Regions from separate parts of the Homo sapiens genome. Here region 2 is linked to region 1. Evidence: fine-mapped expression QTL. Tissue or cell type: whole blood. Region 1 holds a variant in brackets; the other region holds the start of a gene. All regions are shown on one strand. Distances are between the middles of the regions.

What was found. PIP is the estimated chance that this variant, and not a neighbour inherited with it, causes the effect.
Region 2: it holds the start of TEN1, and the variant in region 1 is fine-mapped to the expression of TEN1 in whole blood (TOPMed, PIP above 0.99). The same link has a PIP of 0.9 or more in blood mononuclear cells and lung.

What each region holds. Positions count from the first base shown.
Region 1 is chr17:75,998,156-76,006,155 of GRCh38, reverse strand. It overlaps TEN1 (TEN1 subunit of CST complex), which reads right to left. Exons shown (of 4, transcript NM_001113324.3): 4 at 5,570-6,015. The coding sequence ends at 5,894. CDK3 (cyclin dependent kinase 3) reads right to left here and starts at 5,301. Exons shown (of 8, transcript NM_001258.4): 1 at 5,189-5,301; 2 at 4,615-4,744; 3 at 4,205-4,282; 4 at 4,014-4,134; 5 at 3,738-3,908; 6 at 3,544-3,645; 7 at 2,758-2,961; 8 at 158-858. The coding sequence starts at 4,730. The coding sequence ends at 733. TEN1-CDK3 (TEN1-CDK3 readthrough (NMD candidate)) reads right to left here. Exons shown (of 10, transcript NR_037709.1): 4 at 4,615-6,015; 5 at 4,205-4,282; 6 at 4,014-4,134; 7 at 3,738-3,908; 8 at 3,544-3,645; 9 at 2,758-2,961; 10 at 157-858. It overlaps LOC124904061 (a long non-coding RNA gene), which reads left to right and starts at 5,596. Exons shown (of 2, transcript XR_007065911.1): 1 at 5,596-6,351; 2 at 6,520-7,484. RefSeq lists silencers at 954-1,248, 2,862-3,062, 5,415-5,494 and an enhancer at 5,625-5,674. The variant C/T (reference allele first, on the strand shown) is at 4,763.
Region 2 is chr17:75,975,616-75,983,615 of GRCh38, reverse strand. It overlaps TEN1 (TEN1 subunit of CST complex), which reads right to left and starts at 4,376. Exons shown (of 4, transcript NM_001113324.3): 1 at 4,105-4,376. ACOX1 (acyl-CoA oxidase 1) reads left to right here and starts at 4,450. Exons shown (of 14, transcript NM_004035.7): 1 at 4,450-4,651; 2 at 4,923-5,082. The coding sequence starts at 4,543. It overlaps TEN1-CDK3 (TEN1-CDK3 readthrough (NMD candidate)), which reads right to left and starts at 4,399. Exons shown (of 10, transcript NR_037709.1): 1 at 4,105-4,399. RefSeq lists enhancers at 1-224, 3,888-3,987, 4,109-4,692, 4,558-4,787, 4,693-5,276 and a silencer at 4,408-4,477.

The sequences.
Region 1 (8,000 bases):
AAAAAAAAAAAATCATGGACTAGCCCCTGTCTCCCCACCTACTCCTTGCCCATTTCCCCACTGTCTCAGTTTGGGCCAGAGCTGTCTCCAGCCCTGTGTCAATGTTCCCCTTGTCAGGAAGCCCAGGTGTCCCCTGTGAGCAGAACAATCAGAAAACTCAGGAACATACCACGTTTATTTATTGTTGTCAAGCCAGAAATGAACCAAAAGAAGCACATCTCAGGTGAAGGAACAACTCCTTATTGCAGTCATAGCCCAGCTCTCCTGGGATCCGGGGAACGCCCTCTCTCCTCTCCCTCACTCCCTCCTGTTTAACTTGGGACTGAACTGGAACTCAACTCTTCCCCCAAACATTTTAAATCCAAAAAGACCAGCAGGGGGCGCCCTTTCCTCAGGGTCTGGCCCTGCAGGCAGGGCAGGTGAGGGCCTGAATACCCACACCCAGCTCTGGCAGGCCCCCTGCCTTCAACTTGGCACTTGTTCCAGTGCCCGGGGACCCCTCGTGCATGGAGCATCTGTGCCTCTATTTTGAAACGGCACCGTCCAACCCAAAAAACAACACAGGATCTCGCTAACCTGCGGGCAGGACTAACCCAGACTCAGCCCTCTGCAGGCTGATGCTGAATTCCTTAGTGCTTTGCTCTCCCCAGATGCATCCTCTCTTGGCAATGGGTAGGAGGCAGCTGGGGCAGCAGCTGCTCGAGAAAGGATCTGAGTGTGGCCTTGACATTCTCAATGGCGGAATCGCTGCAGCACATACTGGCGGGCAGCTGGGGAGGGCTCAGGGGATGAGAAGTACGGGTGGGCCAGGGCAGTCTTGGCTGTGATCCGCTGGCTGGGGTCATACTGCAGGAGTTGCTAGGAAGAAAGAAGGAAGAAGATGTGGTCTGGGTGCAGCCAGGGTGGGGTGAGAAATTCCCCTCCCAGGTCCCAGATCAAGGGCCTGGGCCCCAAATTGGCTGCCCTCAAACCCAGAACCGCATGAAGCCATGACCTCCCAGCTCTCCAGCCAGTTCCGGACACTCCTGGAATCTGGACAGTCCTAACGAGTCACCCAGGTCTCCTCAGGCCACTGAAGCTGAGTCACCCCCCTTCTCGGGGAGGGTCCCAGGTCCCAGCCTGCTTCTAGTTGGGAAGAGCACAGAACCCCACGTATCAGGAAGCAGGGGACTGAAGCTGTCCAGGGAGGAACACTGAGTGGGGGCTCAGGGACTGACACTCCAAGAGGCCAAACCTGTCCAGCCCTCTGCCCTAGAGTCCCTAAACCCAGACAGGATGTGGAAGGACCCCCTGTGGTGGAGTAGCCCAGCTGGAGGGCTCGGGGCCTTGGCTGGAGTCTGTGCCGTCCTGCTGCCATTGGGCGGGTACACAACACACAGAGACTTCTGGAGAGCTGGACACACAGCCTGAAGATGAAAATACTGACCCACCTTCCTCTCATTCAACACCAGATTAAGGAGAGAAATGTGGCTCCAAGACTTTGTGGGCAAGAATGGACAGTGGACGGGCGCAGTGGCTCACACCTGTGATCCCCCCAGCACTTTGAGAGGCCAAGGTAGGAGGATCGCTTGAGCCCAGGAGTTCGAGACCAGTCTGAGCAACATAGTGAGACCCCATTTCTACAAAAATAAAATTAGCTGGGCATGGTGGTGCACCCCTATAGTCTCAGCTACTCAGGAAGCTGAGGTGGGAGGATCAATTGAGCCCAGGAGTTCGAGACCAGCCTGGGCAACGTGGTGAAATGCTGTCTCTACAAAAAAAATACAAAAGGTAGCCAGGCATAGTGGCGTATACCTGTGGTCCCAGCTACTCAGGAGGCTGAGATGGGAGGATCGCTTGTGCCTGGGAGGTCAAGGCTGCAGTAAGTCATGGTCACACCACTGCACGCCAGCCTGAGTGACAGACTGAGACCCTGTCTCAAAAAAAAAAAAAAAAACAGACGGTTCTGCCAGAGACTTCCTGGGCAGTCCGGCCTGGGTCAGCTCAAGACACCAACAGGAGGGGTGAGTGAGAACTGTGGCATGGGCCCAGGCAGTAGGGAACAGCCTGTTCTGAAGACTGACCACTGTAGGAGTCACAGGGGAACAGCCAGGCAGTAGAACGAGAGGCCCCAGCCGGGCACAGTGGCTCATGCCTGTAATCCCAGCACTTTGGGAAGCCGAGGTGGGCAGATCACCTGAGGAGTTCAAGACCAGTCTGGCCAACATGGTGAAACCCTGTCTCTACTAAAAAAAAAAATACAAAAATTAGCTGGGCGTGGTGGCAGGCACCTGTAGTCCCAGCTACTCGGGAGGCTGAGGCAGGAGAATGACTTGAACCCAGGAGGCAGAAGTTGCAGTGAGCTGAGATCACGCCATTGCACTCCAGCCCGGGCAACAAGAGCAAAACTCCATCTCAAAAAAAAGAAAAGAAAAGAAGGTATGGCCCCAGCCTGGGGAGGCATACAGCTTAGATGGAGCAGTAATGTCCACAAAGTAGAATAACCAAACACACAAGACAACTAGGGAAAAAGGGCGTGTAGCACAGCATAAAGACAGAGCTAACTCAATGAGCGCCACTTTCACAGGGAAGATAAATACTGCACTTATCCTGGGGGAGGCTTCCGGGTTGAACAATCAGTATACCCAAGCCAGTTGTGTACAAAGGTCAGGAAAGAGACCCTGGCCTTGGACTCAGAAAGTGCCAGGGTTATGTAAGAGGCTGGCTGATGAGGGGAAACTGTAGTCGGAGCAGCAGCTGGAGCCCACATGCACCTACCATGAGCAGGTCCCTGCCCTCTGGCTCCAGATTGGGCACAATCTCTTCCAGTCCCTTCCTGGTCCACTTAGGGAAGCTGCCCTTATAGTCAGGCAGCTGGGTGACCCCGGGCCATGTGTCTTCGCTGGGTGTCCCCAGCATACGAAAGATACGAAAGAGCTGGTCAATCTCAGAGTCACCAGGAAACAGGGCTTTTCGAGTCACCTGAAATGGGGAAGAAGAGAAGGTGTGGGGTCCGCCACTTTGTTATACAGAATCCAATACCAGATAAGTGGCCAGACCCAGGGAGAGGCCTGTCAAGATATCTTTTCCATGACTGTGCAAAGAATTCTGGCCTCTTTTGGAATAAAGCTACCTTCCTCAGTCCTTTAGCCAGTACCAAACACCTTTTTTTAAAAAATAGAGACGGAGTCTTGCTCTGTCACCCAGGCTAGAGTGCAGTCGTGCGATCACAGCTCACTGCAGCCTCAACCACAGGCTCAAGCAATCCTCCTGCCTCAACCTCCCAAGTAGCTGGGACTACAAGCATGCACCACCACACCCAGCTAATTTTTGTAGTTTTTTAAGAGCTGGGGATTTGTTACGTTGCCCAGGCTGGTCTCAAACTCCTGGGCTCAAGCCATCCTCCCATCTCAGCCTCCCAAAGTGCTGGGATTACGGGCGTGAGCCATGTCCAGCCCCAAACACTCTTTAATCCGCCTCGAATGGGAGCATCAGTGGACCCCACCCAACCCCAGTAGGACCCTGCCTGTGGCACCCTGTGGCCATGTGTGCCCCTCTCTCTACCATCTCTGCAAAGATGCAACCAATGCTCCAGATATCCACAGCTGTGGTATAGAACTTGCTGCCCAAGAGAATCTCGGGGGCGCGATACCACAGTGTCACCACCTGCAGGGCAAAGAAACAGTATCACTCAGGGTGGCTGAGTGCATGGGTGACACTCCTCCTGCTGCCCCTCTCTCCTCTTTGTCTCACAATACCTCATGGGTGTAGGTGCGCAGGGGCACCCCGAAGGCGCGAGCCAGGCCGAAGTCAGCCAGCTTGATGGCACCCAACTCATTGATGAGCAGGTTCTGGGGCTTCAGGTCTCGGTGGATGACCCGATGTGAGTGGCAGAAACTCACCCCCTGCAGCAGCTGGAAGAGGTAGCTCTGGAGAAACGAGCGCGAGGTGCAGCCAGCTGAGCGGAGGTGCTGCGTGGACAGGGATGGCAGGGATGGGGTGTCACCTCTCCTTCCCTGCCCTTCCTTCCCTACCTTGATGAGGTGCAGGGGGAGCTCTGAGCCTGGGGTGGAGTCCATGTACTTCTTCAGGTCCTGGCTGAGGAACTCAAACACCAGATAGAGCTTCCTCTCGTTGTGCACCACGTCCAGCAGTCTGACAGGGAGATGGCAGTCAGGATGCTACCTTCGCCATCCCAGCTTCCCCACCTCAATCCCCAACTCACCGGACGATGTTGGGGTGCTTCAGTTCCTTGAGCAGCGAGATCTCCCTGATGGCAGTGCTTGGGACCCCCTCCATCTCCCTGCAAGAAACAAGGGCACAGCCGTGGGCAGAGACTTGGGCCAAGAAGGGCACTTCCAGCCAGGGGGATCGGCTTCTCCTTAACCCCACAGAATGACCAGGGCCCCGGCAATGGAGACCTGTGCTCCTTGGCACGTCATCCACCAAACTCCACAGTCAGGGCCCCGGCAAAGGCTGGTCAGAAGGCAGTGAACTGGGGAGAGGACAGGTAAGGGCTGCTGGGCAGCACCCAGAGGAGTTAAACGTGGACTCCAGGAAAGAGGGAACGGATCAGGGAGCGCCCAGGTTGTGATGGCCCAGGGTGGGTAACTCAGGGGCCGTCCCAGCACTCACAAATCCAGTCTGATCTTCTTCAGGGCCACCAGCTGCCCTGTCTCCCTGTTCTTGGCCTTGTACACCACCCCATAGGTGCCCTCTCCGATCTTCTCTACCTTCTGGAACATATCCATGGCCACAGAGCTGCCTGGGAAACAGAAGGCAC[C/T]GGGCAATTTGCACCCCACGCCCAGCGCTCCCGTTGCTCCTCCAGCTTCCATGTGGCGCCCTGCCCAGCCCAGCCCAGCCCAGACTGCCCAGCTCCCAAGGCCCACGGCCTAGCCACCCCAACCCCAGCTCATCCTGCCTGGGAACCTGGCTGGGGGTCGGAAACCGCCCCTCACCCAGCCCAGCCCGGACCCCAAGGGGGTCAGGGGGCCCCCTTCACCCAGCCCAGTTCAGCCAGGACCCCCAGGCTTCTCGCCCATGCCCGGCCTCGGAGGGCAGGGCCCACACTCTCCCACCCAGCCCCCTGCCCATCCCAGCCAGAACCCCCAGGAAGTCAGAGACCACCCCTCGCCCAGCCCAGCCCAACATGGACCCCCAGGCCTCTCACTTGTGCCGGGCCTTAGAGGGCAAGACCACCCTTTCCCACCTGGGTCACTGCCCAGCCCAGCCAGTCCCAGGCTCTGGGTACACATGGCGGCCAGGAAGGGCTGCCCAGGGGCCAGGGCCACTGGGGGCAGAGGTCAGGGGTCAGGAGGGTCTTAAAGCCACAGTCCTGTCTTAGGCTGCACGGTCAGGGCCCAGGGCCTCAGCCCGGCCCGTGTGACGACGCTCAGCCTCCTCTGAAGGCAGAGCCTGGCCAGGGGCAGACCCCTGCATCCTGGGCCCCCCACCCCAGCCCCTGGGCCCCTGGTGCCCTACCCTGAGGCCCCAGGCCCAGAATTCACCAGAAGCCCTGAGAGGCTGCAGCCCACAGCCTGGGTTGCAGCTCCCCCTCCTGGCCCCCGCCGGCGCTGCACCACGAGCACACTTCAAGAGCACGCCCCCTGGGCCTTTATTCACCAGGACCTTCTGGAACCCTCCATGGCCCCACACCAAGCACGGCCCCGGCGCCCAAGCTCGGCCACCTGCAGTCTCCTGGGGTGGGGCTGTCGGATTTATGGCATGCTTTCTGGGTTCTCATTGCTGAGCCAATCCCAAAGTAGGGGAAGGGGCTGGATTCATCACCCGCCCCTCGGCTTTCGAGCTCCAGACAAGGCCGTCGCTGGGGAGGCGTCTGTGCTCTCCCGGGCTCCTGCAGCTCCAGAGGGTTCGGGCTCTGAAGCAGGTGAGGGTGTTGCTAGGCTGCTGTTTCCTACTGGCTGCCGCCCCGCTCCTGCTTGTACAGTCTCTGCTCCCGGATGGCTTGTTCCAACAAGGGCAGGTTCATCCCCTCCACACAGGTCAGCACGCGCGCCTTCACCACGGAGCCTCTGTCTGCAAGACAAACACCAGGGCACGAACGGCGACTGAGCGGCGTGTCAACAACGTCCTCCAAGGTGCATTCCAGCTGTTCCCTCCACAGCTCAGTCCTGGGTTTTGGCAGCAAGTGATGTGGACAATAACAGCATATGGGGCAAAGGCAACTGAGTATTTGGGCCTAGAACCGTGGGCCTGTCATGCACAGTCGGCCCGTGTCTGGAACTTAGCAGGTGGTCAGAAAACCCCTCTGGACTGAGGGAAAGGCCCCCTTGGCACCTTGGGACACAATGTCATCAGGAACCGGGGAAAAGAGACACCCATATTTTAAAAATCCAAGAGACTGAGCTCCCGGTAAGTTTGGCTTTATAGGAGCAGGTCATCCCACCCTGGACGAGGGGGGCTTCTAGCAGATGCGGTGGTGACCTGATACATAATGGAAAGGTTTGCCACTATTCAGGTGGCACCAAACAGGAAAGACATCTCCGAGAGACTTTTTAAAAATTTTCTTTCTTTTGACAGGTGAACTGGCTCACACCTGTAATCTCAGCACTTTGGGAGGCCAAGGCATGTGGAACACTTGAGGTCAGGAGTTCAAGACCAGCCTGGCCAACATGATGAAACCCCATCTCTACTAAAAATACAAAAATTAGCCGCGTGTAGTGGTGCATGCCTGTAATCCCAGCTACTTGGAAGGCTGAGGCAGGAGAATTGCTTGAACCCAGGAGGTGGAGGTTGCAGTGAGCCAAGATCACGCCACTGCACTCCAGCCTGGGCAACAGAGCAAGACTCCACCTAAAAAAAAAAATTTTTTTTTTGAGACAGGGTGTTGCTCTGTCACTTGGGCTGGAATGCAGTGGCTCAATCATGGCTCAATGTAGCCTCCACCTCCCAGGCTCAGGTGATCATCTCAGCTTCCTGAGGAGCTGGGACTACAGGGACGCACCACCACACCCAGCTAATTTTTGTATTTCTTGTAGAGATGGGGTCTCGCCATGTTGCCCAGGCTGGTTTCAAACTCCTGGGGTCAAGTGATCTGCCCGCCTCGGCCTCCCAACATGCATGGATTATAGGCGTGAGCCACTGTGCATTGCTGACATTTTTTTTTTCTTTCTTTTTTCCCCAGTCATAGCTTGCAAGAGAAAAAAAAAAGTTAAAAAAATTTTTTGCACTCATGCTCTTTCTGCTCTCTGAGCACTTTAATAAATAGATTTCCGAGATGGGTGGATCACCTGAGGTCAGGAGTTCATGACCAGCTTGGCCAACACGGCAAAACCCCGTCTCTACTAAAAATACAAAAATTAGCCAGGTGTGGTAGCTGGCACCTGTAAACCCAGCTACTCGGGAGGCTGAGGCAGGAGAATCGCTTGAACCTGGGAGGCAGACGTTGCAGTGAGCCGAGATCAAGCCACTGCACTCCAGCCTGGGCAACAGAGTGAGACTCTGTCTCAAAATAAGTAAATAAATAGATTCAATGTTCTAGGCTATTACATTGTTTTCTTTTGACGCTGTTTGAGATAAAGGCTCTGCCTGCCCTTTCCTCTAGTCTAGGTCATTTATAGCACAGCCTGAGGGCAGAATTCAGGGTGTCATCCTGCCTAGCTGTCTATACAGGCTACCCTTAGGCAATGAACTCATTTGAAACATGAGGTTGCCTGTGTGTCTCAGCTTCTGTTAGCCCCAGTGCTGACACAGGTCAGAGAGGAATCGGGGCGTGGCGCGGTGGCTCCCAACACTGTAATCCCAACACTTTGGGAGGGCAAGACAAGCAGATCACTTGAGGCCAGGAGCTCAAGACCAGCCTGGCCAACAAGCGAAAACCCTGTCTCTACTAAAAATACAAAAGTTACCCAGGCCCGACTACTTGGGAGGCTGAGGCACGAGAATCACTTGAACCGGGGAGGTGGATGTCGCAGTGAGCCAAGATTGCGCCACTGCACTCCAGCCTGGGAAACAGAATGAGACTCTGTCTCAAAAAAAAAAAAAAAAGGAAAAAAAAAGGA
Region 2 (8,000 bases), 23 kb after region 1:
AGTCTTTCTTGACTGTAATGCCATGCTCTCCATGAAATGATTTCGTTTGTGCTGTGGGAACCCATCAGGTGGTTATAGAGGTGGCATAGGCTATGAAAACACTGGTTGTCTAAAACAGGGGGAGATAACAATTATGAAGGGCTAGTGTACACGAGTGTGTGCTCACTAACATGAGGGGACTAAAGGAGTGTCCCCACTAGATGTTCCTGTTTTTCTGGTGGATCTGGGGAAAAAGAGGTGGGGAGGATGCTGGGGTTGCTATGCAATTCTCACCGAGGGAGGAATTTGCTGGTATAATGATTATACATTTTTCTTTCTTTCTTTCTTTCTTTTTTGAGATGGAGTCTCGCTCTGTCTGCCAGGCTGGAGTGCAGTGGCGGGATCTCGGCTCACTGTAACCACTGCCTCCCGGGTTCAAGCGATTTTCCTGCCTCAGCCTCCTGAGTAGCTGGGAATACAGGCGTGTGCCACCATGCCCGGCTAATTTTTGTATTTTTAGTAGAGACGGGGTTTCACCATGTTGGCCAGGCTGGTCATGAACTTCTGACCTCAGGTGATCCACCCACCTCGGCCTCCCAGAGTGTTGGGACTACAGGCGTGAGACACCTCACCGGGCCTCTTCCTTTTTTCTTTCTTTTTTTTTTTTTTGAGCCAAGGCGGGCAGATCACTTGAGGTCAGGAGTTCGAGACTAGCCTGGCCAATGTGGTGACACCCCGTCTCTACTAAAAATACAAAAATTAGCCAGGCATGATGGCGGGTGCCTGTAATCCCAGCTACAGGGAAGGCTAAGGCAGCAGAATTGCTTGAACCCGGGAGGCGGAGGCTGCAGTGAGCCGAGATCATGCCACTGCACTCCAGCCTGGGCGACAGAGTGAGACTCTGCCTGAAAAAATAATAAATAAATAAATAAATAAAACTATGATCAATGCTTGAGCCTAAGAGTTTGAGGCTGCAGTGAACTATGGTTGCGCCACTGCATTCTAGTCTGGGTGACAGAGCAAGGCCTTGTCTCAAACAAAACAAAACAAAGCAAAACTATGATCAAATACATGTGTATGCCTTTTCTCCTATTAATCACTTGTGTGGTATTCCTGCCAAAAATGCATCATCTGAATCTAATCATGAAGAAATATCAGACAAATCTGAATTAAGGGACATTCTACTGTAGGTGCCAAGGGGCCCTCTGAAGTTTCGCTGCAAAAAATCAACTTACAAAAGGCAGAGTAATAGTCAAAAATGTGTACAAATTTATGTAACATGTACATATGGGAGCCTTCAGAAGGAAGACCCAAAGATACAGGGGAAATTGTACATTTTTATGCAAATGATTGAACATAAAAGGTATGATCTAATGCTGATAGACTGAGTGGGGAGGCCCAGCAAGGCCTGTCTGTCTAGATTCTTCTTGGCCTCTTGGAACAGGCATTCCTTCCTTCTGGGTGTGGGGGAGGACCCTCTCTGGAATGGAGTCTTATGGCCTACAGTCAAACAAGCTAGGTCAGATAATTTCTTTTTGGCCAGTTTTTACACCAAAAGAAGGAGGGAAAGTTAAGAGTAATATATTTAGGGTTTTTTTTGTTTGTTTTTTGAGACAGAGTCTCACTCTGTCGCCCAGGCTGGAATGCAGTGGTGCAATCTCGGCTCACTGCAACCTCTGCCTCCCCGGTTCAAGCGATTCTCCTGCCTCAGACTCCCGAGTAGCCGGGACTACAGGCACATGGCACCTCGCTCGGCTTTTTTTGTATTTTTAGTAGAGACGGGGTTTCACCGTGTTAGCCAGGATGGTCTCGATCTCCTGACCTCGCTATCCACCTGCCTTGGCCTCCCAAAGTGCCAGGATTATAGGCGTGAGCCACCGCACCCAGCTTATATTTAGGGTTTTATGGCTGGCTTTGGGGGTAAATGACTCTGTTTTCTATGACCTGCCTTGGGGAAGAGGATTCTAACTTCTCTGGCTAGGCTCGGGGGAGAATGCACCTGAGGGAGAGGAGGACAGAAGGTAAAAAAAAAAAAAAAAACAACTTGCTTTGTGGGTTGCTTCTGAGGCCTTCATTTTGGGGTATTGTTTTCTGAGACCCAACACTACAAAACAATGGGCTTATACACTTCAAAAGTGTTAATGTCAGCCAGCCAGGCGCAGTGGCTCACGCCTGTAATCTCAGCACTTTGGAAGGCTGAGGCGAGCGGATCACATGAGGCCAGGAGTTGGAGACCAGCCTGGTCAACATAGTGAAACCCTGCCTCTAATAAAGACACAAAAATTAGCCAAGTGTGGTAGTACATTCCTGTAGTCCCAGCTACTCTGGAGGCTGAGGCATGAGAATCATTTGAACCCAGGAGGCGGAGGTTGCAGTGAGCTGAAATCATGCAACTGCACTCCAGCCTGGGTGACAGAGGAAGACATCATCTCAAAAGAAAAAAAAAAAGCGTTAAAGTCACAGAAGAAAAGTTCTTTGTTCTATTCTTGTAATTCTCGTGTAAATTTGAAATTATTTCAAAATAAAAACTCAGCAAATTTAGCTCTTCATCTAAGTCTTTTCTATTCAATGCTAAGTACACCCCTTATCATTGTTACATTAAGAGCAATTGGTTTCCTAGAATATTAGAACTAGAAGGTCAGCTGTCAAGCAGCCATTTGTTCACTCCACAAAGATTTCCTGAGCACCTTTAGCGGGGCAGGCACTGTGCCAGGTACAGAGAATAAACTAGACACCCTCTCTGCTGTTGAAGGGGCCTGAGATCAGCAGCTTAATAAGACAAATGAGGATCCTGAGGTCCTAGGGGTTAAGAGTGTGTATTATAGTTCTATTATTCAAATTATGAATGTTATGCATCTCTCGTAGTTTTACTTCTGAGAAAACCAAAGTCATAGTATTACACAGACTACAGACAGGCTAGGCGCAGCGGCTCACGCCTGTAATCCCGGCGCTTTGGGAGGCCGAGGCAGGTGGATCAACAGGTCAGGAATTCGAGACCAGCCTGGCCAACATGGCAAAATCCTGTCTCTACTAAAAATACAATTAGCTGGGTGTGGTGGCGAGCCCCTATAATCCCAGCTACTCGGGAGGCTGAGATAGGAGAATCGCTTGAACCCAGGGGGTGGAGGTTGCAATGAGCTGAGATCATACCACCACACTGCAGCCTGGGCGACAGAGCGAGACTCCGTCTCAAGAAAAAAAAAAAAAATGACTAGAGATGATTCAACAAATCCCTGAATCTCCCTTGTCTACAATCCCACTGGGCAGAACTGTTTTTGTTTTTTGTTTTTTTTCTGTAGAGACAGGGTCTCACTATGTTGCCCAGGATGGAGTGCAATGTCACAATCTTGGCTCACCGCAACCTCCACCTCCGGGGCTCAAGCCACCATCCCATCTCAGCCTTCAGAGTAGCTGGGACTACAGGCGCATGCCACTACACCCAGCTAATTTTTTGGTATTTTTTGTAGGGATGGGGTTTTGCCATGTTGCCCAGGCTGGTCTTGAACTCCTGGGCTCAAGTGATACGCCCGCCTCGTCCTCCCAAAGTGCTGGGATTCCAGGCGTGAGCCACCGCGCCCGGCCCTACACTAGGTTTTAACAGTAAGTGTGCATTTCCCACTTTGATGACGGTGATGGCGAAAGCAAAGAAGTCTGGATTCCAAGACCTCTAGTAACTGCCAGGTTGCGGGGGAAAATGTCTGGTTTCCCAGACAGAAGGCTTAGAGCAGCACCGCCCGCTTGGTCTCATTCTAAGTCCCCGTCCACCCCTTGAACAGCGCTCACAATCCCACACCCAGGGCCCCGGAACCCACGCCTCTGCCAGTAAAGACGCCATTATCTTAACAAAAGGTAACTGGAGCCTCTCCCCAAAGAGACTGGTTCCCGTCCCATTCTTCTCCAATCCGGGTGGATTTGGCAAAAGCCCAAGTGACCCTCCCTAGCAATTCCGCAAAGCCCCATCTCCCGCCCCAGACTCCAGAGTCTCCCGACCACTCTCATTTCGGAGAGGCCTAGGGGCACGGACCCGGAAGCGTGACAGAGGCCGCGGGGTAAGAGGGGGGCAAGTGCAGGCGCAATCCCTCCTCAGCCTCGTTGTCCCGCCCCCTTCCCAAGGCCCCAGCCAACCTGTTCTAGGCGTCGCCGGTCCTCGGATTTCTTCTTTCCGCCTCGCGTGGTCACGTGACGGGGGAGGGGCGGGATACAAAAAGTGCTTTATTTTCCCACTCCCCGGACGCCCAGCAGGGCAGTTTCTTGACCTTCGGAGCCCCTTTCCCGAGGATCCGCTCGGGAGCCTCCCCTGGCCAGGAGCAGGGGATTAGTCTGCCCCGCGACCGGCCCCAGCCACGACGCGGACATCGCCCCCTCTGTCTGGGCCGCTGTCACTCACGCGCCAAAGGGCCACGGAGAAAGAAGGGGCGGGCCGGGGCGGGCCGGGCGAGCGGAGGCGGGGACTTGCGCCGTCCTGAGGCTGCCTCCTAGGGTCCGGCCGGCGCTGGAGCTGCGGATTTAGATTGTCACTGCCACCTCGGTCGGTGCTTACTTCGCTGCCAGCTGGTCGTCGCCATGAACCCGGACCTGCGCAGGGAGCGGGATTCCGCCAGCTTCAACCCGGAGCTGCTTACACACATCCTGGACGGCAGCCCCGAGAAAACCCGGCGCCGCCGAGAGATCGGTGAGGGCGGCGGGCGAGACCTCCCTCCTTTCCCGAGAAAAGCTGGAGACTCCCTCGATGCGGAGTCAGGGGCGCTGTGGGGCCTAGGCCCTCTGGCCCAGCGTTAGGGGAGCCGGGACCCCCACTTCGAGGAACAGCCTGTGTCCCTGGTGGGGGGATATCGCCATTCCCCAGGTGTGTCCGCGACTCTGAAGCCTATTGTGATTCAGGGAGGGTGGAACGGAGGCCCGAGTGTCTGTCTGCCTTTTAATGCCCTTTAACCCCCTTTCAGAGAACATGATCCTGAACGACCCAGACTTCCAGCATGAGGACTTGAACTTCCTCACTCGCAGCCAGCGTTATGAGGTGGCTGTCAGGAAAAGTGCCATCATGGTGAAGAAGATGAGGGAGTTTGGCATCGCTGACCCTGATGAAATTATGTGGTTTAAAAAGTAGGTATGCCTTAGAACAGAGCAAGTGTTGTTAAGCCTAAACTTTACAGCTGCGGTCTATGGTGGCCTTTCATCACCGTGCTTGGTGTTTGAAGATGCAAACTGGCATATTTTCATGCAACTTTATAAAGTTATATGTGTGGCCGGGCGCGGTGGCTCACGCCTGTAATCCCAGCACTTTGGGAGGCCGAGGCGGGCGGATCACCAAGTCAGGAGATCGAGACCATTCTGGCTAACACGGTGAAACCCCATCTCTACTGAAAATACAAAAATTAGCCGGGCGTGGTGGCGGGCGCCTGTAGTTCCAGCTACTCGGGAGGCTGAGGCAGGAGAATAGCGTGAACTAGGGAGGCGGAGCTTGCAGTGAGCCGAGATCGCGCCACTGCACTCCAGCCTGGGCAAGAGTGCGAGACTCCATCTCAAAAAATAAATAAATAAATAAATAAATAAAGTTATATGTGTGAAAAATAATGTGATCACTTTTGTATCCAAGCCTTTTCGTGGGATGACGTGTTTGTAGAATGCTGATAATAAATGGAAATGCAGGAGTTTTTGTTCTCAAGAGTACAGTTTCAAGGATGTTGTAAAAGCATTGTTCTGCCCAAGCAACTCAAATTTGACTGATTTAAATGCAGAATCATTTTGCTCTTTGTAAGGAGGACTGCTAAAATTCTGAATCTGGGAGCATTTTTTTTTTTAGTTGCACGACCATTTAAATATTTTGGAGCAATAGCAGATTATATTATATGGTAGTGTGGACCTGGATGAAGAATGATCTGTGACGCCTCTGAATGAATAGAAAGTCTAAGAACCCAGTAGTTCTGAATCCATGACAGTGCTTGAATGGTTGTCTTGTGCATATGAGAGAGACGTCATAAAAACCTGCCTTGGTTCTAGTGTGGAAGAGAGTATATCCTTTTTTCAGACCATGTGTTTTGTTGTGTTTTTTGTTTTTGTTTTTGTTTTTTGAGACGGAGTCTCGCTCTGTCGCCCAGGCTGCAGTGCAGTGGCACGATCTCGGCTCACTCCAGCCTCCACCTCCCGGATTCAAGCGATTCTCCTGCTTCAGCCTCCTGAGTAGCTGGGATTACAGGCGCCCGCCACCACACCCGGCTAATTTTTGTATTTTTAGTAGAGATGGGGTTTCGCCATGTTGCCAGGCTGGTCTCAAACTCCTCACCTCGTGATCCACCCTGCTCCACAAGGAACGGTAAAAATAAATAAAAATAAGGACTTCGGGCCGGGCACAGTGGCTCATGCCTGTAATCTCAGCACTTTGGGAAGCCAAGGCAGGTGGATCACTTGAGGCCAGGAGCTCGAGACCAGCCTGGCCAAAATGGTGAAACTCTCTCTACTAAAAATACAAAAATTAGCCGGGCCTGGTGGTGCGCTTCTGGGGTCCCAGCTATTCAGGAGGCTGAGGCAGGAGAATCCCTTGAACCTGGGAGGCAAAGGCTGCACTGAGCCGAGATCACGCCACTGCACTCCAGACTGGGCAACAAAGAGAGACTCTGTCTCAAAAAAAAAAAAAAAAAAAAAAAAGACTTTTTTGCCTTAACCTAAACAAACACTATTACATGATCCTAGTACAAGATTATTTTGGCCTATAGCATTTTTTTCTCATTTATTCCTGGGCATTTTCTCTTTTAGGTTTCTCCATTTTAAAGGAACTCCAGTATTTTCATCGGTAAAGACTAAATCGTATGAGTGGTGTATAGACTAGAACCAAGCTAAATAGAACATGTTGCACGTTCTGCCTTTATGGTAATAATGGTCACTGCCTCTAGTGCCTTTGGTATCGATTTTCAGCTTGACTTGGGTTATTTTTGTGAAGATGAAATGGTTTACTCTGGCACTTTGGACTTTCCTCAGAGCTCCACTCAGTTTTAAACGAAAAAATTTTGTTTATTTATTTTTGGTAGTTCAAATCAGCATACTTCCAAATGGTCTGTTTTGTTTTTGAAGTTTGTAACTCATGGCTGTGGGGATATTGAGATAGAGTAACTCCTCCTAGAAGATTATGTTACTGATACCTGTGTTGTGTTTGTAAATTTGAAAAAATTAGTAAGATTTTATTCCTTCTTGAAACGTCAGGAAAAAAGTGGGTTGAGTGTGTGTGTGTGTGTTTGAATGGGTGGTGCAGTGCATTTCAAAGCTGATAGAGATGATTTCATAACCTGTGACCTGTTGATAATGTGAACCAGACTCGAGTGAGGTCACAATGAAATAGAACAAAGTCTTTTATGCGGGTTAAAGATTCATGGACACCGGGAAGTTGTTTTGTGTATCATTTTTCATGTGAAGTATTAAAGTACAAACTTTAACACACCCTTTGACACACTTCCAATGTCCTTAGGATATGACAAGGAGATCAGTTTTTAAGTAAGAGAAGGGGTTTGTAAATGAGTCCTGGAAATTATCGCATGCTATCGAGTTAAAGCCTCGGTTATATAATCTCATCGATTATAACTCACACCAGTGTTTTGTGTACCACTAAGAAAGAAAGAATGCTGCCAGTTAACCGTGACATGCTATTAATTGTGAAATACATCACCTTTCTTTCTTTTCTTTTCTTTCTTTCTTTCTTTTCTTTTCTTTCTTTTCCTTTCTTTTTCTTTCTCTTTCTCTTCCTCTTTCTTTTTCTTTCTCTCTCTTTCTTTCTCTCTCTCTCTCTCTCTCTGCATTTCCATTTATTTCCATTATCAGCAGGTGAAGAGGCATCTGCCACCTCACCCAGCTAACTTTTGTATTTTTAGTAGAAATGGGGTTTCACCATGTTGGCCAGGCTGGTCTCGAACTCCTGGCCTTGTGATCCACCCGCCCCTTCCTCCCAAAATGCTGGGATTACAGGCATAAGCCACTGCGCCTGGCTGAGAAAACATTTTTAACTGATGTTAATGAGCAGCTTCTAAACACAT